3 separate regions of the Homo sapiens genome follow, and all the other regions are linked to region 1. The links come from fine-mapping of genetic effects on gene expression. A gene starts in region 1. Each other region holds a variant in brackets. All regions are shown on one strand. Distances are between the middles of the regions.

Region 1 (10,418 bases):
TTGCTCACACCTGTAATCCCAGCACTTTGGGAGGCTGAGGCAGGCGGATTGCATGAGGTGAGGAGTTCAAGACCAGCCTGGCCAACATCATGAAACTCCATCTCTACAAAAAATACAAAAATTAGCTGGGCCTGGTGGAATGTTCCCGTAGTCCTAGCTACTCAGGGGGCTGAGGTGGAAGGCTTGCTTCAGCCTGGAAGGTAGAGGCTGCAGTGAGAAGAGATCACCCCACTGCACTCCAGCCTGGGTGACAGAACGAGACTGTCTCAAAAAAAAAGAAAGAAAGAAATTAAGTAGCCAGGAGTGGTGGCTCACGCCTGTAATCCCAGCACTTGAGGCTGAAGTGGAAGGATCGCTTGAGGCTCAGGAGTTCAAGACAAGCCTAGGGAACATGGCTGTCTCTACAAGCAGCAAAACGTTAGTCGGGCATGGTGGAGCATGCCGGCAGTCCCAGCTACTCAGGAAGCTGTGGTGGGAGGATCACTTGAGCGGGGGCGAGGAAGGGGTCAAGGCTGCAGTGAGCCATGATCATACCACTACACTCCAGCCTGGGCAACAGAGGAAGACCCTGTCTCAAAAAAGAAAGAAAGAAATTAAATATGTATCTGTCATATGATCCCAAAATTCTGATAGGTGTTTTCCCAGAGGAAATAAAAACATGGTAAAAAAAAAAAAAAAAAAAACTCAGGGGTAGAAGGGAGAGAGCCTGGACTAGGATAGTGGCTATGGCAAGAAATCATGAATTCAAGATATTAAAAAGGTAAAGACTGGCAAAGATGTTTTATTCTTCTCCATTTCCTTATCACCTAAAAGCATTTTTCTTTCTTTTTTTTTTTTTTTGAGGAGTCTCACACTGTTGCCCAAGCTGCAGTGCAATGGCACAATCTCGGCTCACAAAACCATTTCTTATTATATGTGGAGGGCTGAAGAAGCATGTCAGGTGGACTCTGGATATACAGATCAAGAGGGAGATGTGACAAGGTGATGGGTGAGATTCTGACTGTGAAGGTCAAGAACGGCTTGATGAACAAGACTGGAGCAAGTTTCTTTTATTTTCATTTATGAACACAGTACTATAATGTTCATGAAACTTTAAAAAAATTAGCAAAAGTAGAAAAAAAGTGGCCAGGCACGGTGGCTCACATCTGTAATCTCAGCACTTTGGAAGGCCAATGCAGACAGATCACCTGAGGTCAGGAGTTCAAGACCAGCCCGGCTAACATGATGAAACCTCTTCTCTACTAAAGATACAAAAATTAGCTGGGCATGGTGGCAGGTGCCTGTAATCTCAGCTCCTCAGGAGGCTAAGGCACAAGAATCGCTTGAATCCAGGAGGCGAAGGTTGCAGTGAGCCAAGATCGCACCACTGCACTCTAGCCTGAGCAAGAGTGAGACTCTGTCTCAAAAAAAAAAAGTAGAAAAAAAATTTTTAATTGAAATCTCAAAATGTCATTACCTCTAAAGCCTTATGCAGCTCACCACACTCTGAAGTATGTCTTTTTTTTTTTGAGGGGGAGACACTCTGTTGCCCAGGCTGGAGTACAGTGGCGCAATCTCAGCTCACTGCAACCTCCACCTCCCAGGTTCAAGTGATTCTGGTGCCTCAGCCTCCTGAGTAGCTGGAACTACAGGCATGCGCGACCACACCCAGCTAATTTTCTGTACTTTTAGTAGAGGCAGGGGTTTCACCATGTTGGCCAGGCTGGTCTCGAACTCCTGACCTCAGGTGATCTGCCCACCTCGGCCTCCCAAAATGCTGGGATTACAGGCATAAGCCACCACACCTGGCCTGAAGTAAGTCTTAAAATTTGTGGGAACCCAGTAATCCCAGCACTTTGGGAGGCCGAGGCAGGCAGATCATGAGGTCAGGAGTTCGAGACCAGCCCGGCCAACATGGTGAAACTCCGTCTCTACTAAAAATACAAAAATTAGCTGGGCACGGTGGCGGGTACCTGTAATCCCAGCTACTCGGGAGGTTGAGGCAGGAGAATCGCTTGAACCTGGGAGACGGAGGTTGCAGTGAGCCGAGATCACGCCACCGCACTCCAGCCTGGGCGACAAGAGTGAAACTCCGTCTCAAAAAAAACAAAAAAACACGGTGGGAACATAGGATTAATTCCCTCACACTGATCATTTCTCTGCACTCCCACACTCAGCCATTAGAGAACTGCGGGGCCATACACTAATCACTGAATCCCCAACACTCAGCACAGTCCCCACTCAGCACATAGTATGAAGAGCATTTTAGCCTTATTTTAGCTTCTCTCCACATCAAAACTGCCAGTTCAATATTAAAAATGAGTGCCTTGAGTGAAGAAATGCTAAAAGCTGCAGAGATGGAAAAATATCCACTAGGCTTTCTGCCCTTGAAGCACTACTGAGACAGTCAGTTCTCATTATTCAGGGTAGTTATGTCCTGTAAAGCCATCATGAACACTGAACTAGCAAATACTGAGCCACTGCTCCCAGGGGAAATACAGGGTTACTCAACAGGCCAATACATAACCTTGTTTTATGTGTGCTTCTGTTTAAAGATATCTTATTTAATATATATTGTTGATGCAGTAACATGAACTCACAGCCAACAACAAAAGTGATGCCTGAACAAAGCTAATCTAAAAGCTTATCTTTTCTCTATAAGATATATCACAGCCTTCAACTTGGAAATGCTAGACAGCACTTCTATTCTTGGAGGCCCCTATAAACAGCAAAATCACCAAAAGCACAAAAATACAAAAAAACATGGCACTACGTATACAGCCAAAATAACACTTATGAACAGTTTTAGAGCTGAAACAGGAAGGCAGAGTGTCACCTTATTTGAACATAGCTGGGAAAGCATACAGTGGGTGACTCAAAATTTTTCACAACTAGTCTCTCCCACAGCTAGCTCAGTTACATTTTTCATACACTCATCTCCAACTACACCGTTTATACTACAAGATAACACGTTTTGGTGTACATTACACAACAGCAATCTCTGACGGTTTCTGCCTCCCTGAGAAGACCAGCACACAAACATTTCTCTGCTTGATACCACGATAATTAACGGCCTGGTAAGTGGTGAACTGAGAATAGAACACTTTAAAAAACACTCCCAGAGGGGCGCAGTGGCTCACGCCTGTAATCCCAACACTTTGGGAGGCCAAGGCGGGAGGATCACCTGAGGTAGGGAGTTCGAGACCAGCGTAACCAACATGGAGAAACCCCTTCTCTACTAAAAATACAAAATTAGCCGGGTGTGGTGGTGCACACCTGTAATCCCAGCTACTCGGGAGGCTGAGGCAGGAGAATCGCTTGAATCCAGGAGGCAGAAGTGGCAGTGAGTCAAGATCTCGCCACTGCAGTCCAGCCTGGGCAACAAGAGCGAAACTCTGTCCCCCCAAAAAAACAACAGACAAACAAAAAAACAAAACTCCCGCCCAGGTGTGGTGGCTCACACCTGTAATCCCAGCACTTTGGGAGGCCGAGGCGGGTGGATCACCTGAGGTCAGGAGTTTGAGACCAGCATTGCCAACACGGTGAAACCCTGTCTCTACTAAAAATACCAAAAATTAGCCTGGCATAGTGGCATGCGCCTGTAAGCCCAGTTACCGAGGAGGCTGAGAGAAACTCTGTCCCCCCAAAAAACAACAGACAAACAAAAAAACAAAACTCCCACCCAGGCGCGGTGGCTCACACCTGTAATCCCAGCACTTTGGGAGGCCGAGATGGGTGGATCACCTGAGGTCAGGAGTTCGAGACCAGCATGGCCAACATGGTGAAACCCTGTCTCTACTAAAAATACCAAAAATTAGCCGGGCATAGTGGCATGCGCCTGTAAGCCCAGTTACCGAGGAGGCTGAGATAGGAGAAGCGCTTGAACCCAGGAGGTGAGGTTGCAGTGAGCCCAGATACGCCATTGCACTCCACCCTGGGCAACAAGAGTGAAACTTCATCTCAAAAAAAAAAAAAAAACAAAAAAAAAACTGCCCTAAACGATACCAGACCTGAGGCCACTGAATTACCTGACCCAACCCAAGAGTTAAATGCTAGTTTCCAAAAACTTAAGTTTTAAATGTCTGTGCCTCAGACTGCGAGTTCTGTGGAGGACTAGACCTAGAAAGCCTAGAAAATCACCAGTATCCATCAAAAATGGAGAAACAAAATGTGGTATATCCACACAATAAATAATTCAGTTATTTAAAAAATGAAGTTGATACATGCTACATACAACATAGATGGACTTTGAATCATGAAGTGAAATAAACCAAACACAAAAGAACAAATATTGTATAATACAGTACTGAGAATGGGTAAATTCATAGATTAGTGCTGCTGGGAGTAGGAGGAAATAATGGGTGTCTGCTAATGGTTTTAAGGTTTCTTTTAGGGATGATAAAAATGTTCTGGAATTAGATAATAGTGGTGATTGCACAACCTTGTGAATATATTAAAACCACTGAATTGCACACTTTAAAAGGGTGAATTTAGACTGGGTGTGGTGGCTCACACCTGTAATCCCTGAACTTTGGAAGGGCGAGGAGTTCGAGACCAGCCTAACCAACATGGTGAAAAATACAAAGTAGCTGGGTGTGGTGGTATGCGCCTGTAATTCCAGCTACTTGAGAGGCTGAAGCAAAGAATCGCTTGAACCCAGGAGGCGGACGTTGCAGTGAGCCGAGACGGCGCCACTGTACTCCAGCCTGGGCAACAGAGCGAGACTATGTCTCCACTTTTTTTTAAAAAAGGGAGTGAATTTAATTGTACGTGAATTATAACTTTTTTTTTTTTGGATGGATTCTCGCTCTGTCCCCCAGGCTGGAGTGCAGTGGTGCGATGTCGGCTTACCGGCACACCTGCCTACTGGGTTCAAGCGATTCTCATGCCTCCGCCTCCCGAGTAGCGGGGATTACAGGCGCCCGCCACCAGGCCTGCCTAGTTTTGTATTTTTAGTAGAGACGGGGTTTCGCTATGTTAGCCAGGCTGGCGTAGAACTCCTGGCCTCAAGCGATCCTCCCGCATCGGCCTTCCAAAGTTCTGGGATTACAGGTGTGAGACGCCGCGCCAGACCTCTATCTCAATGTTATAACAAGGCTCAATACTCAGCTAAAGTGAGCGTCAAATTTTTATTTTTATTTTTTCCCCCGTGACAGGGTCTCGCTCTGTCGCCCGGGACGGAGTGTCGTGGTACGGGTGCGATCTCGGCTCACTGCAGGCTTGACCTCCAGGGAACATGGGGGCATGCCGCCACCATGCCCGGCGTCAAATTCCTTTTAAATCAATCATTTCTTCCCAGCGTCCCCCGCTCCCTGCAACTCAACTTCGTTTAGCTATTAACACAAACTTCAGATTCCCCACGCCTGTCTGCAGGCAGCATCTCCAAGGAAGCGCCACCACGGACACCTGGCTGTCCGCACCGCGGTGGGGTCCCGGCGCGTTGGTGCCAAGTTTCCTGTACCCCGCCTTCCTACCCACCTCTCGGGAGGCCCGGATACTGAGCCCCTCACTGCACTGGTGAACTAGAACAGGCCTCTGGACTCAGCATCTCTACGCTGAGACCTCAGGATCAGGTCCACCGCAGCCCCAGGTTCTCGACCCGGAAGCTGAGCCTTCCCACGCTCCACACCCACGGCTAGAACCACCCCGGGGGAAGCCGCTCTCCTCCCCCACTTACGCGCCTCGGGCAGCGCGCGGTGCACACAGGGAGCTCGATCTAGGCTATGGACAAGGGGAAGAGATCTTAGATGGAGGCCGCGCAGAGGAGAATGGGAAGGGTGCGCGAGCGTCTCTGGGAAGAAGGTCCGAACCCACGCCCAGCGCCGGAGGGGGAAAAAAAAAAACACAGACCAGAGAAGGAACCGTAAATCAAGTCGGAGGGGAAAAGAGCCGCAAAGCCTTCTGCGGCAGCCGTAAAGCAACCTGGAGGCGCGGTGCTGGCTTTTACGTTCTGAGCCGCTCGCCCTGCCGCTTCCCTGCGCGCCCTCTGCCTCCTACTTCCCGCCAGCTTCCCTCGGTCCGCGGCCGTCGGATCTCTGCTGCCCCCTGGTGGGCCTGGCGGTTTCGTCAGGCCTTCAGCGGCTAGTTAGGCCCGGGTGGTTCACACTTCACATGCCCAGTGCCCATTAGGATGCGGGGCCCGCCCACCCATGCACAATTGGGAAAATCTGAGGATGAATGGTTGTCAGAGACCTTCCCAGATTCCGCCCGGGCCGAGGCAGCGGTGGACCTGGTGGTTCTCGCGGCCTCTCACCACCGCCGCGCACATCCAGTCGTCACCGGATGGCGCCTTCGGTTAGCGACGACCGCAGGGAAATGGAGAAGTGCGGCTTGGGGGGCGAAGTCCCCTCTAGAATGTCCCCTGGGGCCGGGCGTGGTGGCTCAGGCCTGTAATCCCACCACTTTGGGACGCCGAGGCGGGCTGATCACGAGGTCAGGAGTTCGAGACCAGCCTGGGCAACATGGCGAAACCCTGTCTCTACTAAAAATACAAAAAATTAGCCGGGCGTGGTGGCGGGCGCCTGTAGTCCCAGCTACTCGGGAGGCTGAGGTAGGAGAATGGCGTGAACCCCGGGGGACGGAGCCTGCAGTGAGCCGAGATCGCCCCACTGCACTCCAGCCTGGGCGACAGAGCGAGGCTCCGTCTCAAAAAAAAAAAAAAAAGTTTTTGTAGCGACAGGGTCTTGCTATGTTGCCCAGGCTGGTCTTGAACTCCTCGCCTCAAGTGATCCTCTTGCCTCAGCCTCCCAAAGTGCTAGGATTACAGGTATGAGCCACTGCACCTAGCCCACTTATCATTCTTTTTGTGGCGAGATATTTTCAACTTACTCTCTTAGAAATTTTGAAATATACAATAAATTATTATTAACTATAGTCACTATGCTGTGCAATAAATCTCAAAATTGTATTCCTCCTGTTTAACTGTTAACTTTGTACCCTGAGACCAACATCTTCATCTCCCCATTATCTCCCCCAGCCCCTTATTCCCCAGCCTCTGGGGAATTTTTAGTAGAGACAGGGTTTCTCCATGTTGGTCAGGCTGGTCTCGAACTCCCAACCTCAGGTGATCTGCTCACCTCAGCCTCCCAAAGTGCTGGGATTACAGGTGTGAGCCACTGTGCCCAGCCAATATTGAGCATTTTTATGAACCTGTTGATCATTTGTATGTCATCTTTTGATAAATGATTTTTTTTTTAAAGAGTCAGGGTCTCAAGCTATCAAGCTGTTGCCCAGACTGTACTGCAGTGCTGCAATCATGGCTCACTGCAACCTCTAACTCCTGGGCTCAAGTGATCCTCCCACCTCAGCTTCCCAGGTAGCTGGGACTACAAGCATATGTCACCACACCTGGCTAATCTAAAATTTTTTTGTAGAGACAAGGTCTTTCTATGTTGTCCAGGCTTTTCACAACTCCTGGCCTCAAGCAATTCTCCTGTCTCAGCCTTCCAAAGCACTGGGATTACAGGTGTAAACCAGTGCACCTGGTGCCCTTTGCCCCCTTTTTAGTCGTGTGATCTGATTTTGCTATGAGTTGTTTGCTTTCTTCACATATTTAGAATAGGATAGTAACCCCTTATTGGATATATGGTTTGCAAATATTTTCTCTCACTCTGTTGTTTTCTTTGTTGTGTCCTTTCATTTCTGATTTTGGTAATTTGTGTCCTCTCCTTTTTTCACTAGTCCAGCTAGATGTTTATTAATTTTACCTGTCTTTTCAAAGAACCAGCTCATGGTTTTATTAATTACTACAATTGTTTTTCCATTTGTTTGTTTCACTGATTTTCATTGTTATCTTCATCACTTCCTTTCTTCTGCTCACTTTAGGTTTACTTTACTTTTCTTTCTTTTTGTTTCTTATGATTTTAACCTTTTTTTGTTTTAAGTAAAGGCATTTAAACTATTAAACTATAAATTTTCCTCTAAGAACTCCTTTAGCTGAATTTTATAAATTCTGAAACATAATTTTTGGGGTAAATGTATTTTAAAGTTACCTACCTGCATGTTATTGTATATATTATATTGTTTTCTTTTTTTTTATGAAAAACTTTTTTTTCTAAGAGACAGCACCTCACTCTGCTGCCCAGGCTATGGTGCAGTGGCACGGTCATAGCTCGCTATAACCTCAAATGCCTGGGCTCAAGTGATCCTCCTGCTTCAGTCTCCTAAGTAGCTAGGATTACAGAGGCTACATGCCCAGCTAAGTAAAAAAACATTTTTTTGGTGGAGGCAGGGTCTTGCTATGTTGCTCAGGCTGGTCTTGAACTCCTAGCCTCAAGCAATTCTCCCACCTTGGCCTCCCAAAGTGCTGGAACTGCAGGTGCATGACACTATGCCTGGCTAATTAAAAAAATTTTTTTTAGAGAGGGGTTCTTACTATGTTTCTCAGGCTTGTCTTAAACTCCAGGGCTCAAGCAATCCTCCTGCCTCAGCCTCCTGAGTAGCTGGGACTACAGGTGCTCACCACCATGCTCAGCTCTAAAAACTACATTTTAAAAATAGTTCCTGCTATTCTTTGTTGTGGGTTGAATTGTGTTCCTCAAAAAGACAGGTAGAAATTATAACCTCCAGTACTTGTGAATGTGACCTTAATTAGAGAGGGGTCTTTGTAGATGTAATCAAGTAGGATGAGGTCATACTCAATTCAGGATAGACCCTCTTCAATATAATTGCTGTTATAAGAAAACAGGCTGGGTTCGGTGCCTCACACCTCCCAACACTTTGGGAGGTCAAGACGAGAGGATCGCCTTGACCAGCCTGGCCAGTTCGAGATCAGCCTGGCCAACACGGTAAAACCCCGTCTCTACTAAAAATACAAAAATTAGCTGGGCATGGTGGTGGGTGCCTGTAATCCCAGCTACTTGGGAGGCTGAGGCAGGAGAATTGCTTGAACCTGGAAGGTGGAGTTTGCAGTGAGCCGAGATATAGTCATTGCACTTGAGCCTGGGCGACAAGAACAAAACTCTGTCTCAAAAGAAAGGGAACGGAAGAGAAGGGAAGGGAGGGGAAGGGGAGGGGAGGGGAGGGGAAGGGGGAAGGGAAAAGGGGAAGGGGAAGGGAGGGGAGGGGGGAGAGGGGGAGGGGAGGGGGAGGGAGGGAAGGGAGACGCCCGGGCCAGGTGGCTCACACCTGTAATCCCAGCACTTTGGGAGGGGGGCGGATCACTTGAGGTCAGGAGTTTGAGACCACCCTGGCCAGCATGTTGAAACCCCGTCTTTACTAAAAATACAAACATTAGCTGGGGATGGTGGCACATACCTTTAATCTCAGCTACTCGGGAGGCTGAGGCAAGAGAATTGTTTGAACCCGGAAGTGGAGGTTGCAGTGAGCCAAGATTGTGCCATTGCACTCCAGCCTGAGCGACAGAGTGAGACTCAGTCTCAAAAAAAATAAAAATAAAAATAAGAAAACAGAGACAAAGACAGAAGGAAGGCAGCCCTCTGAAGATGGAGGCAGAGATTGCAGTCATTATGCCAGAAGCCAAAGAACATGAGGCCACCGGAAACTGGAAGAGGCAAGGAAGTATCCTCCCCTGCTGTGAGAGCAAGCTGTCATTACTTAGTCAAATAAAGTGTATGTCTACGACCCAGTGATTCCACTCCTGTGTACAAAAAGTCCTCATACAATTTACGAAGGGACATACATGAACATATCCACTGTAGTATTATTTACTTCATAACATGGCCGTGCCAAGTTCTTTAATCTGGGACTTAGAGCCTCAAGAACTGAGAGAAGCTAAATTTCTGATGTTTTAAGCCACCCAGTTGTGGTAATTTGTTACAATGGCTTTAGGAAACTAACACAATGTGATTTCTAATCCATCGTGCCTGCCTGCCACAGCATTTCCCATGGTGTACATCCACCATATTTCGCCCATCTACCTTCCCCACTGTGAACATCATAAATAATACTACAGTGAACATATTCCTACATGTTCCTTTATAAACTGTGTGAGAGCGTTCCGTACACACAGCAGTGGAACCGTTGGGTGACAGACGTCTATTTTATTTGCCTGAGTAATGACAGCTTGCTCTCCACCGCCCTTGCATGAGGGTTCCTGTATGTCCACACCCCTGCCAATTCTTGACATCATGCTGATTCACAACTTTCGGCAGTGTAATGAGTGTGAAATGTTATCTTTTTTAAAAAAATTATATTTCTGATTACTAATGATTTTAAGCACTTCCTGTGCATGCTCAGTTTTTGGTTTTCTGGTTTTTTAATTGGCTGTTCATATCATTCACCCATTTCTGTATGTAGTCATTACCTTTTTCTTGTTGATGTGAAGGTATTCTTTGAAATTCTAGATATTAATCTCTTGTCAGATTTTGACTTTGTAAATATCTTCTCTTACTCTGTTAGCTGCTTATTAACTTTGTCCATAGTGTCATTTCCTAAACAGAAATCCTTAAATTTTTTACAATAACAGGCTGGGCGCGGTG
Region 2 (10,418 bases), 56 kb before region 1:
GTAATGTTGCTTCCGGTTATCCAAAAACACTTGATACTAATTTTTTTTTTATATCTTATGAAGGAAGAAAACAGCAAAGCAAACATTTTGTCAGACCCATATAGCTCCCTTTATCACTCACACTTCTGTAGAATAGCGAAATTGCGTATATAATCAAAATTAACTTTGAGAGTGCCCTAGAAAGGAGAAGCACAATATGGCAACTGAGAAACTTTTTCCGCGAGTCCAGAGCAACCAGTCTCTTCTTGAATGTTGATCATTTCTTTCACTAGCCACCTAATGAAGGAATTAGCTTACTTATAGGTAGGTATAGGGGTGATGTTTCATGAAAACTATGTGTGCTGTCTCTTTTAAAATAAAAGCCACCGAGCTCAGTGAGATGCTAACATTATGAGATCACTCATGGAGGAACTGAGACCAGCCTCATGAACTTGAGATTCCCATCTCACACAGTTCTGCTCACTTGAGTGCAGTGGTGGACAGAATTACCTGTAATATTTATTATTTCTCTTTCCCACCGCAGTCCACCGCCAACACATTTGTTGAATTTCCATAAGAAAAGTACTAATTGTGAATCTGTTGTGACCAGGAAAAATCTTCTGACATGAGACAAGCCAGTAAACTTTTAAACTAAATTAGGAATTTATTTTTGAATCATATATAAGAAATAAGAAAAACATGGTAAATTGCTTACTTGAGAAGCTGAGTTGGAATTTATCCCTATTTCTTTGGTCCCAATGTACAGGGGAACACTATTTGAGGAACTTGCCACAATGAAGTAAAAACCCCAACAGAGAAAGCACTCCATCAGCCACCACATTTGGGGGAAAGTGCATTGTGAAAGTCCGTAAATCAGGAGTTAGAAAATTAGTTTTAAACTTATTTTCTCATTTAAAAACATGGATTCAGATTTCTAAGGGAGTATAAAGTGTGACAAAAAATAGCAAGTGAGACATGTGGAGGGGTAAGGGTAAATAGCTAGTGCCTAGATAGAGGGAAAGGCCTAAGCAAAGACTGTGCAAGAATAGATTGATAGAAGCCAAGACAGATGTAGGATTAGACTGTGGAAGGGTAGAAGGAAGCTGTGTGCTTGCGGTGGATGGAATGGTTAACAGGATGGAATACCCAGACCTCCTTGCCACCATCTGTAGGGAAGAAGTATACATGTAAGAAAGAGGAAAATAATACCCTGTGATAGTGACAGAATATGTTAATGCCATCTTTTATTCATAGGGGCACCTTCCCAGAAAGATGTATAAAACTGAGAAAGAAAAGAGGGAACATGAGATACAGTGAATCTACCAGTAGATCTTTGTACATTTTTCACAATATATTTTAAAGGTCGCACAAATAAATAACTCTTTCTACCGTTTTGAGTAACATCAAACATAGAATGTAATAAGACTTCTCTTAAACTGCAAAAACATGAACTACTCTGAGCCTTGAGAGTCTGACATACAATCTTGAGAAACTGGCAAAATAATCAAAGCAGTACACTAAATTTGAGTATAGTTTTGTATGTTCCATAAAGACAAATGTTATGTTGTGCCAATATAAAGCATAAAACAGTGTGTCCTATCTAAATTGGCTATATATCGTGACTCTGAAGGTGCCACGGAACTGTATTTACTGTGATTGTTTTCATTCAGTCCCAGCAACCTCTAGAGGATCTTGATGCTCAATTGAGAAGAACACTTAGTCCAGAGATGATCACAGTGACTTCTGCGGTTGGTGTAAGTTTTGAAAATCTTGATAAAATCTCCTCATAACCCTAATATATTATATGCCTGGGACACAAACTGTAACCTAAACCATTATTAATACCTTTAACATGTATTCAGAGTTCCTGCTTATTCTAGCCAAAAGAAATGAGACTGATTAATGAAAGATTCATGCTGACTCAGGAGTATCACTATGGAAAAGATTTTATTTGAAAGGTGCTTTTTTAGTTGTACGTCTGGTCAGATTGTGCCATAGATCAATTCTATGGATTTCGTATTTTTGTTTCAGAGGAGGCTAAATTTTGTCAGATAAAATAATGTTTTGGGCTAGGTGCAGTGGCTCACGCCTGTAATCCCAGCACTTTGGGAGGCCGAGGCGGGCGGATCACAAGGTCAGGAGATCGAGACCGTCCTGGCTAACACGGTGAAACCCCATCTCTAGTAAAAATACAAAAAATTATCCAGGTGTGGTGGTGCACGCCTGTAGTCCCAGCTACTCGGGAGGCTGAGGCAGGACAATGGCGTAAAACCCAGGAGGCAGAGCTTGCAGTGAGCCGAGATTGCACCACTGCAGTCCAGCCTGTGTGACAGAGCGAGACTCCATCTCAAAAATAATAATAATGTTTTGATTGAAACTGTTTTTCTGTGAATATCCAAGTTATACCCTTAAGCATCCTATGAGAAAAATTAAGAAAGCAATCAAGAATTAAGAGTAGAAATTCATTCTTTTAAAATGTACCTTTTTTTTTTTTTTTTTTGAGACAGGAGTCTTGCGCTGTTACCCAGGCTGTAGTGCAGTGGCACGATCTTGGCTCACTGCAACCATCACCTCCCAGGTTCAAGTGATTCTTCTACCTCAGCCTCCCGAGTAGCTGGGATTACAGGTGCCCGCCACCACACCCGGCTAATTTTTGTGTTTTTATTAGAGGCGGGGTTTCGCCATGTTGGCCAGGCCGGTCTCGAACTCCTGACCTCAAATGATCTGCCCACCTTGACCTCCCAAAATGCTGGGATTACAGGTGTGAGCCACCATGCCTGGCCCTAAAAGGTGCCTTTCTTTACATCAGACTTTTAGACTTTAAAAGAAAAAGGAAAGAAGATAAAATGTTCTCAGACATAAGTGTTTCATCACATATACTGTCTTTCTGCCCTTTTACAAAGACCATAGGAAAGGCAACGAGGCAAAAGTTTGAGTGACTGAAGCTAAAGATTTGTGGTGTCTGTCTGTGTGTGTTTTACAGCCTGTGTCCATGGCGGCTCCAACAGCAATCACAGAAGCAGGAACACAGCCTCAGAAGGGTGGTGAGAAACATCCTTCCTCCTTTTATATTACTAATTCCAGCCCTACCCGTAGTTGATTCAGGAGGTTTACCGTTTCAAAGACACATTTCCACGTATTTGATAACTGAGGAGCATTGGTAGTAATATCTAAAGCTTGAAAGATTAGCAAATTAATAAATCTGTTCCGTTATTATTTGTCAGAGGAAAGGTTATACAGGAGGTAATGATAAGACCCTTCATTATTAGCTATGCCAGATCCTTGCTATTAGAGATTAGGAAATTAAAGCATACTGTATTTAGAAAAGTAAATTTACTGATAACCTCTTAGCTTTTGTGACACTGGATATATAGGGATAGAAGCTTGAATAGTCTGGACATATATTTGTATTGAAATACAAATGTAAGATTTCAGTTAATCAATTTAAACATTTTTATTTTCAAGGCAATTATATTCTCAATTGGCTCTCATTTTAAAAGTGATTTGCAAATCATTAGAATGGTCTAGAAATGGAAAAATGAAAGGGGAATGTAGATTATCAAAATATGTAGAGTATCAAGTATGTACAATGAAAATAATAAAGATTACTACCAATAAAAAGAGAATGTAGAATATGAAAAAGGTAGCTTTTCAAATCATTGGAAGATGGAATATTTCTTTTTTTTTGAAGTGGAGTTTGCTCTTGTTGCCCAGGCTGGAGTGCAGTGGCATCATCTCGACTCATTGCAACCTCCACCTCCCAGGTTCAAGCGATTTTCCTGCCTCAGCCTCCCAAGTATCTGGGATTACAGGCATGCACCACCACACCTGGATAATTTTGTATTTTTAGTAGAGACAGGGTTTCTCCCTGTTGGTCAGGCTGGTCGCAAACTCCTGACCTCAGGTGATCTGCCCGCCTCGGCCTCCCAGAGTGCTGGGATTACAGGCGTGAGCCACCGCGCCTGGCTGAAAGATGGAATATTTTTATAAGTGGTTTAGAACAACTTGAAAGCCATCTGGAAAAAAGCAAAGGTGGATCACTAGCCTAGACATAAGTAAAGTCCAAGTGGACCAAAGATGAAATATTATATCATAAAATAGTACTATATGAAATCATAAGGGGATTTTTTTTCTTTTTTTTTTTTTTTTTAGTTTTTTAATTTATTAGTAATAACAACTTGAGAATTGCATAGTATTAAGGCATCAGTTCTTGGAGTGTGGGCTGAGGACCCTTTTGGGGTGCCTATGAGGGCAACACTATTTTACAGTAAAACTAAGACATTATTTTCCTTTTTCACTATAGACAAAAATTTAGCCAGCTGTGGTGGTGTATGCCTGTAGTCCTAGCTAATCGGGAGGCTGAGACGAGGATTGCCTGAGCCCAGGAGTTCCAGGCTACAGTGAGCTATGGTTTTGCCACTGCACTCCATCCTAGGTGGCAGAGTGAGACCCTGTCTCAAAAAAAAAATCATGCATGAACAAAAAAATGTATAGGTCAATGGATTTTAATGGCCACAGTTATGAATATCTTATTACTATTATTTCAGATCCCACATTATAACTAACTTTTTTTTTTTTTTGTGGCTTGGAAATCTTTTTTTTTTTTAATTTTATTATTATTATACTTTTAAGTTTTAGGGTACATGTGCACAACGTGCAGGTTTGTTACATATGTATACATGTGCCATGTTGGTGTGCTGCACCCATTAACTCGTCATTTAGCATTAGGTATATCTCCTAATGCCATCCCTCCCCCGTCCCAAGGGGATTTTTTTCAACTATCTAGAGCAGGGTTCACAAACTCTTTTTCTGTAAAGGGCGAGATGGTACAAATTTTAGGCTTTCTAGACCATATAGTCTCTTGCAACTTACTCAGATCTCACAAGTAGCAATGGACAATACATAAATAAATGAGTTTGTGTTTCAATAGAATTTATTTACAAAAACAGGCAGTAGGCTGAATTTGGTCCATGGATCAGTTTGGAGTTCTCAGATAAGTTTAATAGAGGTGTTAAGTTCAATGTCTAATCCAGAAGCAAGTAGTAATAGATATAAAATTTTCTTCATGGAAGAAAAGTGCCACCGATTGCAAATATAAATGAAAAACTGGGGAAATATATATATTTGTGGGAGGGGGAGGGGTATGTGTAGTCATATCACAAAAAGAACTCGTTTTGCTAATACAAAGAGTTCCTAAAATTCAACATGAACCAAAAAACAATCAAAAGATAACAGAAAAGGAAACTTAGACATGAAAATATTTAATGTCCGTAATGATAGAAACACAAAGTAAGGCTACAAGTGATAGCAATTCCCACCTCTCATTGGTAAATTCAGGGGTCTAATAGCCACCAGTGACTTGGTACAGCCTCTGGGGGGATCA[G/A]TTTATAATAGTGATGTCTACTACAGTCTTAAATGGAAATAATTCAGCACTTTCATTGTGGTATATTTATTGTACAGATCTATAAGAGAATATTTATTTCTAAAATAGCAAGAAATTCTGGGCCGGGCATGGTGGCTCACACCTCTAATCCCAGCACTTTGGGAGGCCAAAGCAGGTGGATTGCTTGAGCCCAGGATTTCGAGACCAGCCTGGGCAATATAGTGAGACCCCCATCTCTGCAAGAAATTTTAAAAATTAGCCGGATGTGGTGGTGTGCACCTGTTGTTCTAGCTTCTCAGGAGGCTGAGGAGGAAGGATCACCTGAGCCTGGGAGGTTGAGATTGTGGTGAGCTGTGATGGCATCACTGTACTCCAGCCTGGGTGACAGAGTGAGACCCTGTCTCAGGGAAAAAAGAAAAGAAATTCTGAATAATTTAAATGCCCATCAGTAGAAGCCTGATTAAATATGAAATATATATATGGTATATACATAGGGTATGACACTATGCAATCATTAAAAAGAATGAGGCATTGATATGGAATGATCTCAAAGATATAGAATTACATGAAAACATAAAAATCGCTCAATGTTCTACTAGCTGTATAAAATAAATATATCTCTAGAAAGAAACTCAAAGCATTGTTCCCCGGAAAGGTTTTTAAATTGCCCAAAACTAAATAATTCTGAGGGCTGGGTGCAGTGGCTCACGCCTGTAATCCCAGCACTTTGGGAGGCTGAGGCGGGCAGATCACGAGGTCAGGAGATCGAGACCATCCTGACTAAGACGGTGAAACCCCGTCTCTACTAAAAATACAAAAAATTAGTCGGGTGTGGTGGTGGGCGCCTGTGGTCCCAGCTACTCGAGAGGCTGAGGCAGGAGAATGGCATGAACCTGGGAGGTGTAGCTTGCAGTGAGCCAAGATCGCACCACTGCACTGCAACCTGGGCAACAGAGTGAGACTCCATCTCAAATAATAATAATAATAATAATAATTCTGAGAACTGTACTATCCTATTCTAGAATTTGCCAGTGTTACATTGAGAAAATAAAATTAGCTGGTTTTCATTTAACAATGGATCTTGGCTGGACATGGTGATTCACACCTGTAATCCCAGCACTTTGGGAGGCTGAGGCAGGCATATTACCTGAGGTCAGGAGTTCAAGACCAGCCTGGACAACGTGGTGAAACTCCGTCTCTACTAAAAATATAAAAATTAGCCGGGTGTGGTGGCACACGCCTGTAATCCCAGCTACTCAGGAGGCTGAGGCAGGAGGATCACCTGAACCCAGTAGGTGGAGGTTGCAATGAGCTGAGATCGCACCACTGCACTCCAGCCTGGCCAACAGAGCGAAACTCCATCTCAATAAAATAAAGATGGGTCCTTAATGTCCTCAGTAAAATCTCATCCTTCATTTCACTTACTTATATATCTGAATTAAAGAATGAGTAATTGAGTTTTTAAAGCCTGTTAACCTTTGTTTTTATAGTATATGTTAATGTTGTAGTTGGTATCTAGTAGTAGAGCAAACAATAACTCTTTTCCCCTGTTGGACAGAGCCTCATGGAGGGAGGAGATAAGGAAGTTCTCTTTGCCTCTAACAGCTTTCCTCATGTGTAGTTTGATTTTGCTGTATTTCTAGCTAAAGGGAAAAGAAGTTAACTGGAAGGAGACACTTATGTTTTCCTCATCCATGTATTTGTTTCAGTTTCTCAAGTCAAAGAAGGCCCTGTCCTAGCAACTAGTTCAGGAGCTGGTGTTTTTAAGATGGGACGATTTCAGGTAAGACAGTCACTTTGTGTTGCCTTGATTCCTTCCTTTGGAGGAGTTGTCTATATAATAAAATTACTGCCTACCTATTTGGGACACAATTGCCAGTCTAGTGATTTCTGTCACATAGTACTTTATAGCTCTTTTTAGCATTTTCCTAATAAAAGTAATATATACTAAATAAAATATAGAAATACTTAGAACAGTAGAGACACGGTAGATAGTCGTACTATCTATCCACCCACCTCCCAAGATTACTTTTTGGGGTGTATTTCCTTCCACTCCTTGTTTTCTGTACAAGTGTTTATCTAAAATTAACTACCATTTCTCCTGTTCCAAATGTTACAGCTTTTTTTCCCATCCAGTAATTGGTTTACCTAACCAGTCTCTATCATCATTTCTCATTTTTCCAACATAATAAGTTAAGTAACAGCAAACATCTTTGTGTATAAAAATGTTTTCCACGTTTAAAATAATTGTCCTAAGATTAATTCTTTAAATTAAAACACATGATACCATATCACTTTATTTTACCAGGTTGTCCAACATGTGAGCATTTTCTGGCTGGGGAGAGTAGGTGATATTTTTCTCATTTGTAAACAGGTCCTGAACCTTTATAGGTGGGCTGAGTTTGTATTTGTAAATACATGGACAAACCAGAACAAGGATCTGGATCCTCTTTTTTAGTTACCAGTTAGTTGTGTTGATTCTTGAGGCATACCAGGCATTTAACATTTACCTTGTAGTTTTTCTTATTCACAGGCAACCCTAAAAATTCTACAATGCCTTGCTAATTTATTTTATTTATTTACTTTTATTTTATTTTTTTATTTTTATCTATTTATTTATTTTTGAGACGGAGTCTCACTCTGTCACCCAGGCTGGAATGCAGTGGCATGATCTCAGCCCACTGCAGCCTCTGCCTCCCGGGTTTAAGTGATTCTCCTGCCTCAGCCTCCCAAGTAGCTGGGATTACAGGCACACGCTACCATGCCTGGCTAATTTTTGTATTTTTAGTAGAGACAGGGTTTCACCACGTTGGCCAGGCTGATCTGAAACTCCTGACCTCAAGTGATCCACCTGCTTCAGCCTCCCAAAATGGTGGGCTTACAGGCATGAGCCACTATGCCTGGCCCTGACCTTTTGTTATGTATATGTTGACTAAGACATAAATCTGAATTCTGTGTATGACATCAAATACGAAAGTAAATTATTTACTTTATAAGCGTAGCCAGCCACACAGAATCTGCATCTCAGTACCCATGTGTTCTCTATGATGGTATTCAATTTTTCTTCCTAGTCAAAAGTGGAGGCGCTATGTAAAGAGACAATCAGCCTACTCTTTGACAGGGAAATAAAGTGATTCTTTTTTTCCTTTTTTAAATTGTCTGTGATAGAAATTGGATATTGAGAACTTAAGTTTTTAATCTTTGTCCTTTTTTATCAGGTTTCTGTTGCAGCAGACGGTGCCCAGAAAGAGGGTAAAAATAAGTCAGAAGATGCAAAGTCTGTTCATTTTGAATCCAGCACCTCAGAGTCCTCAGTGCTATCAAGTAGTAGTCCAGAGAGTACCTTGGTGAAACCAGAGCCGAATGGCATAACCATCCCTGGTATCTCTTCAGATGTGCCAGAGAGTGCCCACAAAACTACTGCCTCAGAGGCAAAGTCAGACACTGGGCAGCCTACCAAGGTTGGACGTTTTCAGGTGACAACTACAGCAAACAAAGTGGGTCGTTTCTCTGTATCAAAAACTGAGGACAAGATCACTGACACAAAGAAAGAAGGACCAGTGGCATCTCCTCCTTTTATGGATTTGGAACAAGCTGTTCTTCCTGCTGTGATACCAAAGAAAGAGAAGCCTGAACTGTCAGAGCCTTCACATCTAAATGGGCCGTCTTCTGACCCGGAGGCCGCTTTTTTAAGTAGGGATGTGGATGATGGTTCCGGTAGTCCACACTCGCCCCATCAGCTGAGCTCAAAGAGCCTTCCTAGCCAGAATCTAAGTCAAAGCCTTAGTAATTCATTTAACTCCTCTTACATGAGTAGCGACAATGAGTCAGATATCGAAGATGAAGACTTAAAGTTAGAGCTGCGACGACTACGAGATAAGTAAGTATATTTTCTCTTGTGAAAGAATGTCAGATAAGGTTTTCAGACCTAGATCCCAGGGCCAAGATTAATAATATTTTTCGCCACAATATGCTAATGTCTCATTTCTTTTAAAGAGACAGTGCCACAGAAGCCCCACCCCATACCTCCCCACCACACACACACACACACACACACACACACACACACACACACACACACACACACGATTCCCAACCACTGACTCACAGGCACAGGCAGCTTCTCTTGCACTCATACAGACCCATAGCATTTCTAGTTCTAGAACTTCTTCATTGTTACTATATTATTACTGTATTATTGTTACTGTATTGTATTATTATTTTTATTAATAGCATATTGTATCACTATTAACTGCTCTTTATTTATTAGTCCACTAAATGAATCTGGCACTGGGATGTATGATTATTTGGCACGTTTTGTTTGGCAGATTGGGTCAGAGTAGCAAATTCAGCTATTGTGTGCGTGGCCTCAAAAGTCAGGAAATGTTTTTCTCCTAAAACATTATCAACCATTTGTTGTTGGCTAGGAGCTTGTTGGAACATGGCTTGGGTAATGCAGGCCAGCAAGGTGAGTTGACAAACTAGAATCTCGTGGTAGTACATTTGGGGAAAAGGTTCATTAGTAACTACTACATACTTGAAAGCAGGTTTAGGAATATGCTGTTAATTCTTGTCTGAATGAAGAGGATTATGGTATTTTGAATTATGTTTGGTTATCTTTCACAGACATCTCAAAGAGATTCAGGACCTGCAGAGTCGCCAGAAGCATGAAATTGAATCTTTGTATACCAAACTGGGCAAGGTGCCCCCTGCTGTTATTATTCCCCCAGCTGCTCCCCTTTCAGGGAGAAGACGACGACCCACTAAAAGCAAAGGCAGCAAATCTAGTCGAAGCAGTTCCTTGGGGAATAAAAGCCCCCAGCTTTCAGGTAAAAAGCCCTGGACTAGGTCAGCCACAGCTGTCCTATCTTTTGTTTCTGTCTCCAGCTGTATGTGACCTGCTGAACATTTGTTGTTTTTGTTAAATTTCAAAGGAATTTGGCTCTCCTGATATTTTTGCTTCCTTGACTGCTGTACTTACATTTATTGTACCTCTTTTTGAGTCTATAGAAGTAGACTTAGTGAATACAATGGCTTATTCCATTGTAATCCATAT
Region 3 (10,418 bases), 75 kb before region 1:
CCACTTTTCTTCTGTTTCCCCCAAGGAACCACATCTCAGCAGGTCTTAACTGCCTCATTTTCTTCAGGAGGATCTGCACTTCATCCACAGGTTATAGGAAAACTTCCACAATTATTTTAAACTACCCTACTTTGCACCATAACATTTAAATTTTCTATTCCTTATTTCCCTGAATCATGGATTTTGGAGAAATATTGTTTAATTTTATCAGTAGAGTTTCCCCATCTTTGGGGGGTTGTGAACTACATATATGCATTTAAAAACAAAATGTGAGAGAAGCTACCTGATTTACCTATTATATGTGAAAACCAGTGGAAAAAACACAAAAACTAGAATTTTAGTCATTCTTCACAATCACGACTTCTATGCACGTTATTTTCAACCAGTAGTGAAAATGCAAGTGTATGTAATGTATGGTTGACCCAGCATTATTTAGGAATACAAATCTTAAGTATTACTTTCTTCCTCCAAACAAGTTTTTAAAAAATAGGATAAATTTTTTTTCTATAAAATATAAAACATGGAAAATAGGGAATGCTGTTTTTGAGGTAATATTAATAATACACAGAATTTTCATTAGTGTCGAAGGATCTAAAAAGACAAAGTATATCATGGGAATAAAAAAAGATAGAAAAGGAAACAGTTTAGGAATTTGCCTTAACAAATGAAAATGCCTTTTTAAAATGGCATCAGTCAAGCAAGTTGCTGTGCATTATTATATGTCCAAATAAAATGCTAATTCATAAAATTAAGGACTGATTCTAATTTTTAGCAACTAACAATCTAGTGAGTGGTGGGCTTTTTTTTTTTGTTATAAGAATTTGTGATATGTTGCAAGCTAAGGAACAGTAGACATCTTAGGCCTTGTATTTTCCTCAACAAATTTAATTTTAGTTATTTATGTGTATGAGCATATACACACTTAGCAAATAAAGACAATGTAATGAATGTAATAGAATTCAAAAGTACAGTCAGTGTTTACTGTTTCATATATTCATTTGGTATATTTTATCAAATGTGTACATCTTATAAAATCTACATAGAAGACTATGCAGTTATATATTGAAGACATTTGGATATCCTACATAAAGTACTATGTGTTGTTCTTCCTACTTTCTTCCTATGTTCTTCCCTCATCAGGAGCATAAACAACTCCCAAAATGTGCACAAATTATCAATTATTTAGTGCTGTACTAAGACACAAAAAGATCCAGAAGCTTGACAGCTATACATGGGCATGCAGTATATTCACATCAGTATTCAAGTTGCAGCCCCTATTATAAATATTAATGTATTGCCAGTAATTATCCTTTAGACTTTCCAAAGTAAAAAATACCAGGTAGTTAATTTATAGACATACTACAGAAGGAATCAATATTTATAATAGTTAAGCTGCAGTGGAATGTGATATTATATCCATGTAAGCTTTAAGGAACCCCTTGTAAACTGAAATGGAATGACAAAAGTGGTAGCCTTTTCATTTCGTTAACATACCTATATATAGTCCTGCATCATTTCTCACTTTCTAGTGAGAAACACTGTAGTTGGGGTTTCTCAGACTCAACACTGTTGACATCTGAGGTTGGATAATTCTTTGTTGTGGTGGGCTGTTCTATGTATTGTAGGCTATTTAGAACATCCTTGGTTTATACCTCCTAAATACTAGTAGCAGCAATCTCCCTCAGTTGTGACAACCAGAAATGTCTCCACATATTGCCAAGTGCCCCCCTGGGGGTGGCAGGATTGCTCCTGGATAGCAATGATCGCCCTAGGTACTTGGCAGTTGATGATAACAGATTTTTTGATACTTTTGATAAAAGTCATTGTGGCACTACAAGAAGTATTACCAAATTAGCATTACCAAATACCTTTCTTTAATTCTTCAGATAAATTTCAGATTGATAGTATTAATACTTTGTTCCTGATTATTGTATTTCTAATAACAAATTTTATTATGAATCTGACGATTCTAGCCAGCTAAAATTACAGCCTGAGCAGCATTGACAGCTTAGGTTTTCACTGTCAGTGGGTTTTGCATGGGTTGGGATCAGAACATGTTGTGTGGTATGATCCTTTTCTAAATTTTTCTTACAAAAGTTGACCCAGAGGCCTCTCCCATACATAATCAGGTTAATGTTTCATTTTGATCAAGCAAACTCTGAGGAGATTAAATATTCATTGCAAAAGCCTGACCTCTATACACTTACTTTAGGCCTTCTCTAATTTGTTGTGTTCACTTCTTTCCTTCAGGCACAGGGGCAGAGCCAGGGTCAGCCATCCTCAAGTAGCTTAACAGGGGTTTCATCTTCCCAACCCATACAACATCCTCAGCAGGTGAGAACAATGCATTGCAACATTTTATGAATTAGCAGTGGCCAGAACACTATTTTAACTTTTGTGATTTGTTATATAAATGGCCTGCTAAGTTTTTGAAAGGAAAATTAAGAGGCATACCATGTCTTGTGTTCAGTAACAAAGAAAAAAAAGAGACTTTTCTGTGTTTCAGAAAAATCTCTTTTGTTTAATATACTTTTGAACAATTTAGTAGACATACATTATTACTGATATAATTATCTTTTTAAAAGAGGATTCTACACCTTTTTTTTGAGACAAAGTCTCACTCTGTCACCCAGGCTGGAGTGCAGTGGTGCAATCTTAGCTCACTGCAACCACCGCCTCCCAGGTTCAAGCAGTCCTCCTGCCTCAGCTTTCCACGTAGCTGGGACTACAGGTGCCTGCCACCACACTCAGCTAATTTTTGTATTTTTAGTAGAGACGGGGTTTCACCATGCTGGCCAGGCTGGTCTCAAACTCCTGACCTCAGGTAATCCACCCTCCTCGGCTTCCCAAAGTGCTGGGATTACAGGCATGCGCCACCTCACCCAGCCTGGATTCTACACATAATTTACGGTACAAAGAGTATGTCATTCCTTTTCTCTTTTTTTCCACTGCTTGCAGCAGTGATTTGTCATTACCTTCATTGTGCTTGCCTCTACTAATCCTGCACTTCTTTTTAATTATTTCTAATCTGTAGAATGATGTGTCAGATTTTACGCTAAGAAGCATCTAATGAAAACCTAAGAACAATTACTTCAAGAACATTTATTTATTTATTTATTTTTATTTATTTTGAGACAGCCTTGCTCTGTTGCCCAGGCTGGAGTGCAGTGGTGCAATCTTGGCTCACTGCAACTTCCATCTCCCAGGTTCAAGCTATTCTCACGCCTCAGCCGCCCGAGTAGCTGGGACTACAGGCGCGTGCCACTATGCCCAGCTAATTTTTGTATTACGTTCTACTTATGCCTGGCTAATTTAGTAGAGATGGCGTTTCACCATGTTGGCCAGGCTGGTCTTGAACTCCTGACCTCAAGTGATCCACCCGCTTTGGCCTCCCAAAGTGCTGGGAGCCACTGTGCCCAGCCAAAATATTTTAACTTTTGTTTTGGGGGGCTTGTTCCAGAAAGTTCAAGGAATTCAAGAGATTAGTGTCATCCTGATACATCCAACAGTAAAACTGGTAATTCTAAAATTAAATATTTATAGTGCATCACTGATATTAGTTAATAGTAATTATTTGCAAGGGAATAATGCATTTTTGGCATAATTGAATACTTATTAGCTATTCTACATAAAATTTGTAGCCACTATGTATGTAATGCAAACTTCCTAATGTTAGTTCCCCATGTGGGTTTTTTAATCAGCAAACTCTAAACTGGCTTCTGTTTCTATTAGTTTTTGGTTTTGAAACAAAGTTTTCGGTTCTTAATTACAAATGGCCCTTTTTCAGTCCAACATATGGTCATGTAGTCATTCGATACTGGTTTAAGATCAGGAGTTGCTTGTACAAGATGAAAATCACTTAAAGGCACTTTCTACAGAAACAGTTGATTAGTTTGTTTATACATGCATTCACTCCGTGAACTGAAGGACTGGGACTTATATGCTTTGTTTTGCACCTGTCCTTTCTTCCAAACAAGACTGGTTAAATTCAAGTAAACATATTTTTGCCAACCTTAACAAAATCTGTTTTATTCTATTAACAGTTCCTAATTAGAATGCAAATTACAAGTCACATAAAGCTGGTTGAGAATGGAAGTACTGAGTACTAATCTCCTAACTTGCTTATCTTTGGATGTAGACGAACACCAATGAACTGAGCAAATTGTATGTGCTCTGTTTTTTCTTTTCCAAAGGAATTGGTTATCTGTCTTGTATTTGGGGATATGTATGTATACTTACTATCAAATGAAGAAGATAATAAAATAATTCATTGAGTTTCATGTTAAGAAAGAGTGTGAGAAAAGAAGAGAGCAGTACCATAAATGTCAGATTAAAAGAATTAGGTAGCTACCTCTCCAGGAGAAAAAAATATGGCTAAATGCTATCTCTACAGCAGAAACAAAAATTAATTTTTGTTTCAGTGATGTTTTTGTTTTAGATACTTTTATAGCATGTGTTGTAGAATCACAAAATTGAGCCCTCGATATATATAGGAAGTGTATTCGGTCTAGAATAATTAACTTCTCCAAAGTCACTTAGATAATAAGGGAGCTACAAATTATAACCCAGAATTCAAGATTCCTAGAATAGTATTGTTTCTTCCATTTTAAATAAAGTTCTGCAGGGACTTAATGATTCTGCAAATGTACCTCAGAAGCTGTCTTTATTTGTTTTAATTATTGGAGTTCCACGTTTGAAAAAAGAAAGGTTGAAAACTTTTTGTACTATATGGATAGTCTATTTTTAGACATGATTTTTGTTTTACGTACTTTCAGGTCCCAATCCCACCTTAGAGAACCATATCTCTTGTTTTATTTTAGTGAGGAAAGAAATATACTTTTGCTAAAATTTACTTTATTTCATGCGTTTCTTGAACATAGTAAATGAGGAATTGCTTTTTTGTGTGTTTTTGTAGGGTCTCGTATAGTGATATACTAGATCTTAGCAAGGTACCAAAAATAGCTGCCTCCTGCTGAAAAGCTTTGTGACCACAAACAAAGTTGTGAACTTTGTCAGACACAGTGCCAGCTACTTGGAAGGCTGAGGCAGGAAGATCACTTGAGCCCAGGAGTTCAAGGCTACAGTGAACTATGATATTGCCACCATACTCCAGCCTGGGCAACAGAGCATGACTCATCTCAAAAAAAAAAAAGCACCGAAGTTGTGAACTACCTACCCTACTATCCATAAAGTCTGTTTGAACTGGTTTCATGAGGCAAGCTTGGGCAGAGCATGATGCTAAACTGTTAAGCTAGACCACCCCTGCCTGGCTGAAGTGCTGATTATTAGTCAGTGGGACTGCGCACAGCAGATCATCATGTACTTCTGGCATATCCAGAGGTGACACTTCTCCCCAGATGCTCTAAGAT[G/A]TAACATTAACCGTTAGCCATTGTAAACAACTGGTTTAGAGATCTCTTTAAGATGTTAATACAAGGGTCACTGTCATAGATGCCTCTCAGTTGTCTTAAGCAAAGAAATAATTTGTCCATAAAACTGCTCATTTTTGACAGTCCTTTCAGCTTTTTTTCCTAATTGAGTTCAGATACTGAAGGTCTACCGAGCTGGACCAGGTATGACTACTTTGAAAGAGTCTAAATAATATAGTAAATATATATGTAAATTTCTAAAAAACAAATAAGGATAATAGCTAATATTAAAGTGCTTTGTACATTGTACCTACATTCTCATTTAATCGTTTTAAGAACCCTATAAGTATAGATGCTATAATTATTTCCATTTTACTGATGGGAAAGCTGAGATCTGGAGAAGGTGAGTAGTTTACCCAAACTTACAGCTTATAAGAGGTAAAAACAGAATTTAAATCCAAATAATCTAATTCCACAGCTCACCATTTGACTACTACCCAATTATGTCCAAAAAAAGGGAAGAAATTAACATCTCTCCCAAGCAGGAAAGGGAATATCAGGAAGACTTTAGGAAAAAGGAGGCATTTGAAATGGACTTTGATTATAAGTTAGACTCAGATGTAGAAATAAAGAATATTCCAGGCCAGAAGATAAAAAAATTATACTGTGAGCAATGTGAAAGGCCCTAAGATAGAAAAATAGGGTACAAAAACAAATGTGCCTTTAGTTTGGTTTAACTAGAGCATAGATATGTGAAGGTATAAGTTCAGGAAAGAGTTGATAGAGTCTAAATTTTGATATGAGCATAATTTTGAATTAAGGAGGATGTATTGGGGGCTGGGAGCATATGATTACCATATGCCCAAAGATAACATGGGAATTCTTCCTCAAATTTATCCGTTAGAAAAGAGGGGAATAACCATGTATTCAGACCTTTATCGTACTCTCATATTACAGGGTTTTCACTGTCCTTTACTTTGAACAACAACAAACCAAAAAAGGTTAATGAAATAAAATGAAACAGGTGAGAACAAATGTGCCTGCAAAGACTTCAGCTCATGTAGTTAGAAATGTTCATTGAGAACATCAGACAGAATATTTTTAAGGAATAAACATAAATTTAGTCCTTATTCTCAGCAATATGACTTCACTATTCTGAGGACTGTATGTGATTTTAAACAACTGGCTTAAAGATCTCTTTAAGATGTCAATATAAGGGTTACATGAATAAAAACCTATAAGAGAAAGGAAAAAAAAATCTAGTTTTATTTTAATGTTATGTAAATAGGTGCTTTTCACTGCACATTTTACCTGAAGATACAACTTAGATGGAATGTGTTATGTTATGCCAGAAAACTGCAGGAGCGTTCATAATTTAGCTTCAGTGAAGGTAAAGATGCTGGTGTCTTTACCTATGTAGAGTTTGGGGGAGAGGGAGCAGTATTTCTGAATTAATATATTTAATATGCAATCTTATTTACGTGTGTAAATTAATGAGTTAGATAATTATAGATATCTCATTCACATTCCTTAAAGTTTAAATTTGTTCAAGTTGGCAAATAAAAAAGGTTTTCTGGTTTTTTAGTTCCTTTTTCTCAGGTGGGAAATTAACAAATTTGTCTTATATTCAGAGCACCTTTAGAATTGGCTACATGTGGTTTATCTTAGTTTGCAGAAAATAAATTTCATGTAATTCAGCAGCCATTTCTGCTTCTTTAAAAGTTAAAATAAGAATACATTATCAGAGGCCGGGGCGCGGTGGCTCACGCCTGTAATCCTAGCACTTTGGGAGGCCGAGGTGCACGGATCACAAGGTCAGGAGATCAAGACCATCCTGGCTAACATGGTGAAAACCCGTCTCTACTAAAAACACAAAAAATTAGCCGGGCGTGGTGGCAGGCGCCTGTAGTCCCAGCTGCTCAGGAGGCTGAGGCAGGAGAATGGCATGAACCTGGGAGGCGGAACTTGCAGTGAGCCAAGATCGCGCCACTGCACTCCAGCCTGGGCAACGGAGCGAGACTCCGTGTCAAAAAAAAAGAATACATTATCAGAAATAATTAAATAGGAATAAACCAAACATGACTGCTGTTGCCATTATATTTTAGCATTCTTTTGGTGATTTTAATTGACATAAATATAAGAAGAGCAAAAATATTATTTGTAGATTATCACCTAACAAAATCTAAGACACTTATCAAGGTGGCAAGATACATAATAAATGTACAAATAAATAGCTTATCTTTATACCAGCAGTAACCAATTAGTCGTATGGGTATACCAGCACATACGTAAAAGGCTGTTGGTTGCAGCATTATTTTAAGTAGCAAAAATGAAACAACCAAAGTGTTTATCATTAGGAGACTGATGCCATTTAGAAATTAAAGTAGTATGCTATAGAACACTATGTATAGGAAAGGCATGTTTTTGTTTTGTTTATTTTAACAAAAAAAGAAAACTATGTGAAAATGGCCACTTACGCATAGAAAAAAATCCATGAAGGTTATGCACCAAACGACTAATAGTGGTTACCTCTGGAGAATAGGATTAGGGGTATTTTCATTAACTTTATAATATGATGTACTAGTTAAAATTTTTATTACAAGCAGATGTTGTATTAAAGAAAAAATATAAATTAGGTATTAGAAGATCTTGAAAGTCAGCCCTAAACTTCATTTTTTTTTTTTTTTTTTTTTTTTTTTGGAGACAGAGTTTCGATCTTGTTGCCCATGCTGGAGTGCAATGGTGCAATCTCGGCTCACTGCAACCTCCGCCTCCCAGGTTCAAGCAATTTTCCTGCCTCAGCCTCCTGAGTAGCTGGGATTATAGATATGTGCCACCACGCCCGGCTAATTTTTTGCAATTTTAGTAGCGATGGGGTTTCTCCATGTTGGTCAGGCTGGTCTTGAACTCTGGACCGCAGGTGATCTGCCCACCTCAGCCTCCCAAAGTGCTGGGATTACAGGCGTGAGCCACCGCGCCCAGCCTCAAGTTTTTATTTGTTAGACAGAAGGGGCAGTACTCTAGGGGTCATAGTCCTGTTTTGTTTGGTTTTGTTTGCTTGATTTATTACAGAATTTAGTATTCGAGTACAGTTATGTTCCATGCATTAAATTAGGTGTATAATTACGCACCATGCATTAAATTATACTTGAGTCCCTAGTACATAGTAGATTCCCAGGTGTCATTCCCTTTGCCCCACTTTGAGTTAAAAAATAATGTCCTTGTTTCAAAAAGAGAAACTTCATTTTTTTAATAAAATAAGCAATCTAAGGCATTAACAGCTAGTAAATATTAAAGCTAAAATTTGAAAATGTCTGTTATTCCAAATCCAGTGCTTTCCTCCCTATTTTGTAGCTATAATCAAAGCTATTCTTCAAGCATATTAATTATACAGTTGATAAAATAGGGTAAGGAAAAAAGATTAAAGGAAGCTATTGGATCTATCTGATATAGGTGCCAAAGAGAGAGCTGATGCCAAGAGATAGGGAAAAGGGAATGGCAGGGATGGGATGGGGAAAGGAACTGTCTGGATATGTTATGTAAATGTCTTTGTAAAGACCTATTGTTGGGGTGAGGGAGATAATTGGGTGAAGAGCCAATGGTAACTTGAGTATTAAAAGATTGGTTAATTTTTCCTGGTGGCACCATCACAAAGAACATCAGAGGGAAAACAAATATATAATGGAAATTGATGAATTTGGGTTTGTGCATGTCTTGATTACTAAAATCATCATTATTTACAGACACTGAAGGCTTTAGGTAAACATGCTTCCTTAGAAACATGCTGTTATTGATTTGAAATAAAACTGAATCATTGTATTTTATTCTTAGCAGCAGGGAATACAGCAGACAGCCCCTCCTCAACAGACAGTGCAGTATTCACTTTCACAGACATCAACCTCCAGTGAGGCCACTACTGCACAGCCAGTGAGTCAGCCTCAAGCTCCACAAGTCTTGCCTCAAGTATCAGCTGGAAAACAGGTAAACTTTTTTTTTTTTTTTAAACAGGTAAACTCTTAATTTCTGAAAGGGTGCTAAAAGGGATTTCCATGTAACTTGTCCTTTCATGTGGATAGACTTCTACCTTTTCTTCTAAGGGTAACCAACCCTTGAAGTAGGTTAATCTCATTGCAGAAATGAAGTGAAGATCACCTCATTGGTGCATATGCATTATTTAATGTAAATGGGTACGTTACTGACAGCAGTGACAATCCAAAGTTTCACTTCTAGTCTTACCAGTCCAAAATTGATGTAACAGGTATTAGAAATAACAGGTTAAATAAAGGTGCTCTGGTAACTGAACCTATGACATTCCCTAGAATTGTGTCAGCTATGTCTGATATTCTAGGTTTGAAACTATGCTTTATTTTCATGTAGATTTCTGCACTGTTTACTGTGTGGAATGTTTTTTTTTCTTAAGTAGTCCTCCTAATCACTTGAGAAGTACCCTGTAGAAGGTATGCTTTTCTGAATGACCTTTTTTCAACTTTATTTTTGAGTACTGTTGTGCATGTATGTGCACAGTGTATTGTTACCCTAATATTTCATCACATCTGAGATGCTATCAACTTTAAAATGTACCATATTTTATGTACCACATTATCAGTTATAAAGTAGATCCCAATTTCTCACATGTTAAAATGATCAGGTAGTGGAGAGGGATGATTGCATCCTAGAATGAGTGAAATATGTGAATTATACCAATTTTTATTGAGCCATGTTGGACTTAAGAATTTTAGAAATAATACGAATGAAATCTTAATTCCACTGGGAAGGAATTCATTTGAATTTCAGTAACTACTGTAACAGCAGTCGTAACTTTAGTGATAGCATTATGGTATATAAAATATATTCCAATAAAGCTGTTAAAAAAAAAAGCCAACCCCTTGTCTATGGAAGGGTCCTCTTCTATTGCCAAATGCTGAAGCATTAGCAAATATTTCTATGACAAAAGGTGTAGAACAGTAATAGTCTATTTAGCCTCTTTCTCTCCTGCTCTCCTTTCCATATTCTTATGTGGCATATTAACTTAACACTAATGTATGCAGGGTT

The links.
Region 2: its variant is fine-mapped to the expression of RAD52 in whole blood (INTERVAL, PIP above 0.99).
Region 3: its variant is fine-mapped to the expression of RAD52 in whole blood (TOPMed, PIP above 0.99). The same link has a PIP of 0.9 or more in lymphoblastoid cells, testis and tibial nerve.

Annotation. Positions count from the first base shown.
Region 1 is chr12:943,946-954,363 of GRCh38, forward strand. RAD52 (RAD52 DNA repair protein) reads right to left here and starts at 5,749. Exons shown (of 12, transcript NM_134424.4): 1 at 5,657-5,749. RefSeq lists enhancers at 4,921-5,579, 5,072-5,151, 5,580-6,238, 5,702-5,971.
Region 2 is chr12:887,491-897,908 of GRCh38, forward strand. WNK1 (WNK lysine deficient protein kinase 1) reads left to right here. Exons shown (of 28, transcript NM_018979.4): 21 at 1,650-1,733; 22 at 2,963-3,023; 23 at 7,072-7,145; 24 at 8,581-9,242; 25 at 9,989-10,191. Among named protein-coding and RNA genes, the nearest start is that of RAD52, 57 kb to the right of the region's middle. The variant G/A (reference allele first, on the strand shown) is at 5,363.
Region 3 is chr12:869,015-879,432 of GRCh38, forward strand. WNK1 (WNK lysine deficient protein kinase 1) reads left to right here. Exons shown (of 28, transcript NM_018979.4): 9 at 2,251-2,334; 10 at 9,198-9,347. Among named protein-coding and RNA genes, the nearest start is that of RAD52, 75 kb to the right of the region's middle. The variant G/A (reference allele first, on the strand shown) is at 5,370.